Linked DNA regions of Homo sapiens. The protein of the gene in region 2 interacts with the protein of the main gene of each other region in a pairwise test. Each region holds a gene or a part of one and is shown on either strand. Other genes may lie near its edges.

Region 1 (3,812 bases), on a different chromosome or scaffold from region 2:
ATTCTCTGGGCATGGCAGAGGCAGGCACCAAAACAACTCAAATACCTGGAGGAGAAGCGAGCACCGTCTCAATGCTCATTCTTTCTCAACACCACCTACAGCCATTTCCAGAAACAGCTGCTGGCAGTGGCCCAAACAAAGCCCCTCAAAAAGAAACTGGGCAGTGAGATGAGGGGGCAAGATGAGGGAAATAAGCAACCCAGACACACAAACAGCTTCCCTTTGAGAGAAGACAGGGGAGGGTGGTGACCCCAAGTGATGCAAGCAGAGGAGGCTCCCGTCACTCCCGCTCTGTGTTTGGCTGAGGTTAGAAGAGCCACTTTCAGAACCACCTCCTCTTGCAAGCCCCAGTTTCACTAATAAGCCGTTGACCTTGAGTTTGAGTCTGGGGTTGATTTGCGGCTCTGTCTGGGGGAACCCCAAGGGCCTGTGGTTTCACAAGAAGCAATCCTCCTCATTTTCACAGCGATCGTTTTTCCTCTCCTCTCGCCACTGTGATCAAATTAGGAGGCTGCTTCTCCTAGGAGAAAATGTGTCCATGGTCCCAGGAGGCACTGCCCATTTACCTGTCTGATGGGTTTGGGGAGGGAAAGCAGGATGTATGTGTGTGTGTGTGTGTGTGTGTGTGTGTGTGTGTGTGTCCCTTCCTTCCCTTGTCCCTGGGAGTGTCTCTCCCACCTGGATTGGCCACCCGGCCTGCAGCAAGGACCCCAGGGAGGGCAGGCGCTGGAGTCTCAGCTGCAGGAGGCCTGGCAAGTGGCTGTGTACATGCTGCTGCCCGCCGTGGCTCCACTGCTCAGGCTGCTGGTGGGACACTTGAGGGGCTTCATGCTGCTGTCCCTCTGGATGTGCAAGTGCTCAAGCCGCCAGCGCTCCCAGCTCTTCCGAAATTCCAGCTGGACCTTCCATGGGAAAAGGAGGGAAACGAAAGCCATCATGCAAACCAATGGCTAACAAAATGGCCCCACTATTACATTAGTGGGGAAGGGAAGAAATCCACTGCATTATATTAAGAGACACAAGTCAAGGCCTTCGGGCTCCTAAATTAATATCCCAATAAAATTGTTTATTGTTGTCTCCTATTTTCTGCAGCTCCTCAGGAGAGAGATCAGCTTGATGACCTAATTGGTCTTTTCCATCTCTAAACTCTGTGATTCAGCTAAGTACCTTTTACAATCCATCACAGTATTATTTAACGGAAGAGAATGAGAGGGAGGGTGAAACACAGGGAGACAGGAGATGGGAGAGAGAAGAGAGACTCTGTCTTTACAGCGCACAGTCCAGTTTCAGCTTGGATGCTTGAGAAGGGGGACGGCAACCCCCAGCCTTCCTGGTGTCTACAGCAGACCCTTCTAAACTCCCTGAGGGCTTCTCTCCAGGCCCCAGCACCTCACAGGGGAGGAGGGAGGGAAGGAAGGAATGTGGCTGAGACGGGAAACAGCAGGGAGGAAGGGGCAGCCAGTGAGGGCTTCTCAACTGATGCCATCTAGAGAGACACTGCAGTGACCATGGGGGTGCAGCCCAGGGGAGCTCAGTCAGCCAGGATCCCTGTTGTGCTGGGCTCTGGCCTCCCCATCAGGAAAAGCCTCTCAGGAGGGCTGATGCTTGGGGGCCAGATTGTTGGGGCAGAAAGAGACAAATCCAAGTAACACTGTGGAGCCCCCATCCCTTGAGGGTTTGTGGCAATGCTGTGGCTCCCGGTGGTGGCCAGTGATTCTGGTCCCTGGAGAGGCCTAGCTGGAACCTGCCAAGCTAGTCCTGGGGGGTCTGGACTGCTCTTCTGGGTGATGTTCCCATACATTTGCTTTCCAGAGCTTCTTTGAAGTCCCCACCCTTCCCACACCAGAGTGTCTGGGGTCTGGGCCCTTCCCTTTAGGCCAAGTCACCAAGACAGCCAGATGCCAGCGGCTGTGGATAAGGGGCCAATCTCCCCACCAGCCCCTGTGCAAACAACCCTCCTCTCCTCCTTTGTCGTCCATCCAGCTATGCCCAGCAAGACGCCTGGTATGGCTGCATGCCATCCCTTAAAAGAACATTTTCTGCACTGAGTAGAGTTGAGATGGCCCAGAGGCTGCCTGCCAGGATGACGCCAGTGTCCCATGCAGCGTCATGAACCCAAGCTTGAGTGGGGGAGGGAAGGAGGCTGAGCAGACACCACCTACAGCCACCCTGTTGTATGCCAGCTCCCTGCCCGGCTGAGTCTTTGTGAAGGGAGCGCATGCTGACAGCTGGGATGGGGGCCCTGAGTCCAGTGGTGGCCCCCACTTGTGCAGCTGCCAGGAGGCCAGGCTTGTTTCATAGCCCTTCCGCTGGAGAGGGGGGGAAAGATGGTAAACTGAGGCACACCTCCGGGAAACCAGAGACCAAAGAGAGGTTTCAGGGACACCTATGGGACTTCTCAGGGTGCTGACACACAGTGTCTCCTTCTGCCCCCATCTCCTTCAGCACTTTTCCTGAACCTCTGCTGTGACCCCTGTAATCACGATTGTCCTTGAAAATCACCATATTTATTGGGCACTTACTGTATGCACAGAATTTTCCATTAATTATCTTAGCTGACTTTCACATCAACCCTGCAAAGTAGCTCCACATTTAAAGATGAGGAAACTGAGGTGCAGAGTGTTTATTTCCTCAGGTCGCTCAGCCAGGATTTGAACCTAGATCTGGCCTGATTCCAATGCCCGGCTCCTAACCCCTGGCCTCCTGCCTGCGTGGCTCTTGCAGTCCTGCTTGTCCCTGGTCCATCTCCTACCTCTCACCTGGGAGCACCTCGAGGGCTGGGACCACATCTTCTTCATCTCAGCATCCCTGAACCTAGCACAGTGCCCAGCATACAGCAGGTGCTCAGTACATGTGTTTTAAATGAACCAAATGAATGAACACATAAATGCATGAGCATCTCACATCAGGTTCCTTCTGTTCCTCAGCTATGAAAATGAACCCACAAAGACAACACCACAGATTCTGAGCACCTGGGCTGGGACTTAGGCCACCACACTTCCTCCTCCACCATCGGATTTTTATCCTCATCCCTGCCCTCGACCTCTGCAGTGCAGCACACCCCTCCTGACCTCCCTCTCCAGCAGGCACCATGCCAGCCTCAGGATTCGGGGTGAATTGGGAAGCTCATTCACCTTCATTTACGGCTGGGGAGACAGAGGCAAGGGAGGCAAAATGACTTGCCCCAGGTCACACAGCTCGGCAGTGGCAGGGCTGGGACAAGCACTCAGGGCTCTGAGTCACCTCACTGTGGCTCTCAGGCACAAGCTACAGCAAAACCACCTTCAGGCCTCCCCCTCCCTGTCCCCACTCACGCCCACCAGCAGCTGGTGCAGGCCTTGGCAGCCACACAGAACCAATATTCAAGCCATCTTTTCTCCTCAGGTCACAAGTACCTGGCATTGCCATGGCAACCCTGGGTCTGCAGAACAGCTCTTGTGGACAGAGGCCTTAGCCCCAGAGCCACATGTGTCTTTTGTGGCCCAGTGACAATGATGTATCTGTCCTTGTGCCTGGAGCAGCCAGGGCATGAGGAGTCTCAGGGTGGGTTTAAAGGAACTGGCTGGTGCTCTGAAGGGAGACAGGTTCTCCCGTTCTCTGAGCAGGGTCTCCTGGACCCCGTGGCACTAGCCTGGAAGATCCACGGGGAGATGCTAGCTGGGGTCTGTAGCCAGGCCTGGTCAGAGAGGTGCAACCCTGGTGATTCAGGATCAAGTTTTTTTCCAAGGGCAAAGAAGTACTATCCCCTTACAAAGGTGGGCCAGCCATAGGTGGTGCATGAGGAGGGAGGTGATGAGATGACTAGGCTTGGA
Region 2 (3,812 bases):
TGCTTGTGTTAGGAGAGACAGTCCTCCGTGGCTCTCTTGTGCTCCTCCAGGCCTTGCAAGGTATGCCAAGAATGCTGTTTGCAGTAAACAACCTTGAGGGAAGTTAGTGTCTCCCTCTGAGACAGAGGGCTGTCTTGTTTATTGCTTGCCATAAAACAGCAGATTCCCTAAGCTTAATATTACTCAGCTGTGATGCAAGCTACTGCATGTGCAAGCATTCATCCAGTCCCTCAGCACCACGTGGGACTTAGGGGCAAAGGAAACTGATGCCAACATGCTGATGCACATCCCACTTGCTGTGCCATGAGAAATAAAGTCCTCTGTCTCTGACCCAAGACTTTGTCTTCTGTCAGCATGCAAAAAACAGTGACAGGCTAACTTATTAGCTAATAAGTAGGCTAAGATAAAATCACAGCCCCTGACAGTGTGGAGACAAGCATAGGATGAGGAGAGACATAGTCTTTGGTAAGAGAAAGAATGAGGGCCTCCATGGGCAGGCAATGGGGTAGTGAGAGTCCCCCACTGTCCCACTATTAGAGAGGCTGATGGAAAGAGGTAGGATTGAAACAAGCCACTGAATGTCACCCTGGTTACTGCCCTGTCCTCTGGGCAAAAGGAGGAAGAGGAGTGATCATGACAATGGCAGCAAGCCCAGCAGCCCCTGCCAAAAGGCAATATGGATATGGCTGCTCAATCAACAAGTCTCCAACGGTGCGGCAATAGGACCCTGCTATATAAGATAGAACTTTGAGTAAAATGAAACACTGAAAGATCCTTGGGGGAGCTGTGTACTCAAGCCAAAAGTAAATATAAATATGACTTGCTTTGTGGCTCGGAGCCACTCTCTCCCTTTATGTCCCAGGATCCCTCCCACTCTACCACAACCTCAGCTGCATTAAAGACTGAGATGATTAAAGGTTGGGCTGAGGTTTCCATGTCCCTAAAGGGGACTGAAGGTCATACACACCCATCCTAGTATGCTGGAGAGCCCCAGGGAGGAGAGGGGCAAACTCAGGGCTCTGCTGGATATGAGGTCCCACATCTCCACCCTACCATGTCTCATGGGGGGAAGGATGTACTACACACAGAGGTTACTGCAGACACTCAGGACTGCAGGGACAGCCATAGCAGTGCGCACAAGGACTAAAGGGAAAAGGGCCCCTAACCCTGAGGGAGCGACACTGGGGAGGTCGTGATGCAAGCCTAGTGAAGAGCTAAAGGAGCAGAAAAAGCTTCTCCCCACTCCCTGCAGCCAGCACCGCCACACTCTCCGACTGGGAAATGGCAAAATCTCTGGCTGGCTGTCACCATAGCCCCTGATGCAGGCCTTCTAGACGCATTAGTTCGAGGGGAAAAAGTGTCCAGATTAAACTGGTAATGTTTGAGCCACGCTCCCTGTAGGGAAGGGAAGTTAAAGTGACATTCCAGGCAGAGCTCTTTGGGCCTCTTCAATGTACTATTCCTGTGGCTTCCAGTGCTGAATGTATAGCTGATACTGATCCCATAAGTGTCGAAGAGGATTATCCTGGGCAAGGGCTGCTGTGTGTAGACAGGTGATCCTGTCCTCTCCTGGTGGTCCAGAAGAAAAAAATCTACATCCCTGGAAGGGAAAGGAAATAAATCACAGGCTTAAAAACTTCGTGGCGGCTGGGTGCAGTGGCTCATGCCTGTAATCCCAACCCTTTGGGAGGCCGAGGCGGGCGGATCACCTGAGGTCAGGAGTTTGAGACCAGCCTGGCCAACATGGTGAAACCCTGTCTCTACTAAAAATACAAAAAGGTAGCCAGGCGTGATAGGGGCGCCTGTAATCCCAGCTACTCGGGAGGCTAAGGCAGAGAATTGCTTGAAGCCAGGAGGCAGAGGTTGCAGTGAGCTGAAATTGCGCCACTGCACTCCAGCCTGGGCGACAGAGCGAGAATCTCAAAAAACAAAAACAAACAAACAAAAAACAACTTTGTGGCTGCTGGAGTACTGAGAGCCATGCACCAGAATCACAGTGCCACCTGCTGGACATAGGTACCAAGCACACCCTTTTTAAAAGGACAGCTATTAACTCCTTAGTTAACTACTCAACACTTTGAAATTGATTGCCAGACCCATAAAGGCCTCAGGACTCCCTGGCCTAGTATTCCCACTTTGGGGTGGGTCAATGGGAATCTACTGATAACAAGGGAAGGGTTTAACAAGCCTCACTGATCCTATGGAAATAGTACATTCAAGAGTACAGCTGGTAATCCCAGCTATTCAGGAGGCTGAGGCAGGAGGATGGCTTGAGGTCAGGAGTTCAAGACCAGCCTTGGCAGGATAGTGAGAACTCAGCTCTTAAAAAATCTGTTTTAATTAGCTGGACATGGTGGCACGTGCCTGTAGTGCCAGCTACTCAGGAGGCTGAGACAGGAGGAGCCCAGGAGTTTGAGGATGCAGTGAGCTATGATTGTACCACTCCACTCCAGACTGGGCAACAGAGTCAGATCTCATCTCTAAAAAAAAAAAAAAAAAAAAAAAAGAGTATAGCTAGCCTGGCCCTAGAGGCATCTTGGTTTTACGTGAAGAAGTGGCAGCTCCCACTCTGGGAGAAACAACCTTCTCTGCTACCTGAAGCCGAGCTGCTGTTCAGTAGGGCCCTTGATTCACAGGGGTTCCTGTAAATGCTTAGGCCTGGCTCACCAATGATTAGGCTGAGTTAAAAGCTGATGTTGCCCACCAAGCAGCAGCAGGCACTTAGCCCCAATGATAACTCTGGATGGCTGATGGCAGTAAGGATTGAAGCATTTGGTATGCCACTTGGAAGACTAAATACTGAGAGATGAAAGCTGAGAAGTGTGGAAACACATCATGGCTGCCTGCCAATAGGACAGACTGGATCACTCACGTAGGTGCCCACACTAAGGGCAGGTACTCTCGTAAGACTGACTGGAATCAAACTGCTGATCCAGCCTGCACCACCAAGACTGCTGCCATAGCCACCTGGATTCATGCAACCGGTGTGGAAACATCTACCATCATGGGCTAGGCACAACGTAAGGGACTACATGTTTCTGAGGCAGAAGCCACCACTGCGTGCCAGACTTGTGACTCCTGCCAAAAGTTGGCCTGCTTGTCTTGCAGTAAAGGAAGCCACATTGCAAGGGGCACTGACCACACCTGCTCCTGGGAGATTGACATTAGGACTTTGTTCCCTTCTCTAGGCTCTCATCAGTACCTTGCTACTGCTGATACTTTTTCAGTTTACAGTGCTGATGTTGCTTTTCCAGTCCAATTATCTGACTCTGTGTATACCACTGTGGCCCTTGAAACTAAACTGCCAGGTTTTCTGCTTTCCAAACCATCTACAGTCTGACACTGGCATATCTTTTTGTCGCAATGGCCACCCAACAGTGTCAACAGTCAATAGCCAAGGTATTCGATGGACCTCCCACACTCCCTACCATCCACAGGCATGACATTGTCAAGTACTGAACAGTTCCCTCAAAGATCAACTCAAAAAGATTTTTGATTCTATGTTTTTAACCTCCTCCTGGTCTGCAAACCTTACTGAAGCAGTTTGGTCACCTAAGGCAGCCATTCTCAGAAATGGGTCATCTCCTTTTGCCTACCAACTGGGTAATGATCAGGAAAAAGGGGTGGAGGGTTATATAAACCTATTTTGAAAATGTGAGATTCTCCCCTGACCATTTCTGGCCATGATTCATCTTTCTTCCCCCTTACAGAAAGCCCAGATCAGCTGGGAGGAGGAGGCTATCTATGTAATTCAGACTTAATTCTAGTTCAGTCACTAGATTGTCTTGTTGGAATGGCCTGGTGCCAGAACA

What was found.
Region 1: the proteins of POMT2 (region 2) and GLP1R interact in a protein complementation assay, tested with the Homo sapiens proteins (one large-scale study listed by BioGRID).

The regions. Positions count from the first base shown.
Region 1 is NC_000006.12:39,082,996-39,086,807, reverse strand, and holds part of GLP1R (glucagon-like peptide 1 receptor precursor), read right to left. Parts: intron 903-3,812; coding exon 735-902; 3' UTR 1-734.
Region 2 is NC_000014.9:77,314,085-77,317,896, forward strand, and holds part of POMT2 (protein O-mannosyl-transferase 2), read right to left. Parts: intron 1-3,812. UniProt on the Homo sapiens protein: Transfers mannosyl residues to the hydroxyl group of serine or threonine residues. Coexpression of both POMT1 and POMT2 is necessary for enzyme activity, expression of either POMT1 or POMT2 alone is insufficient.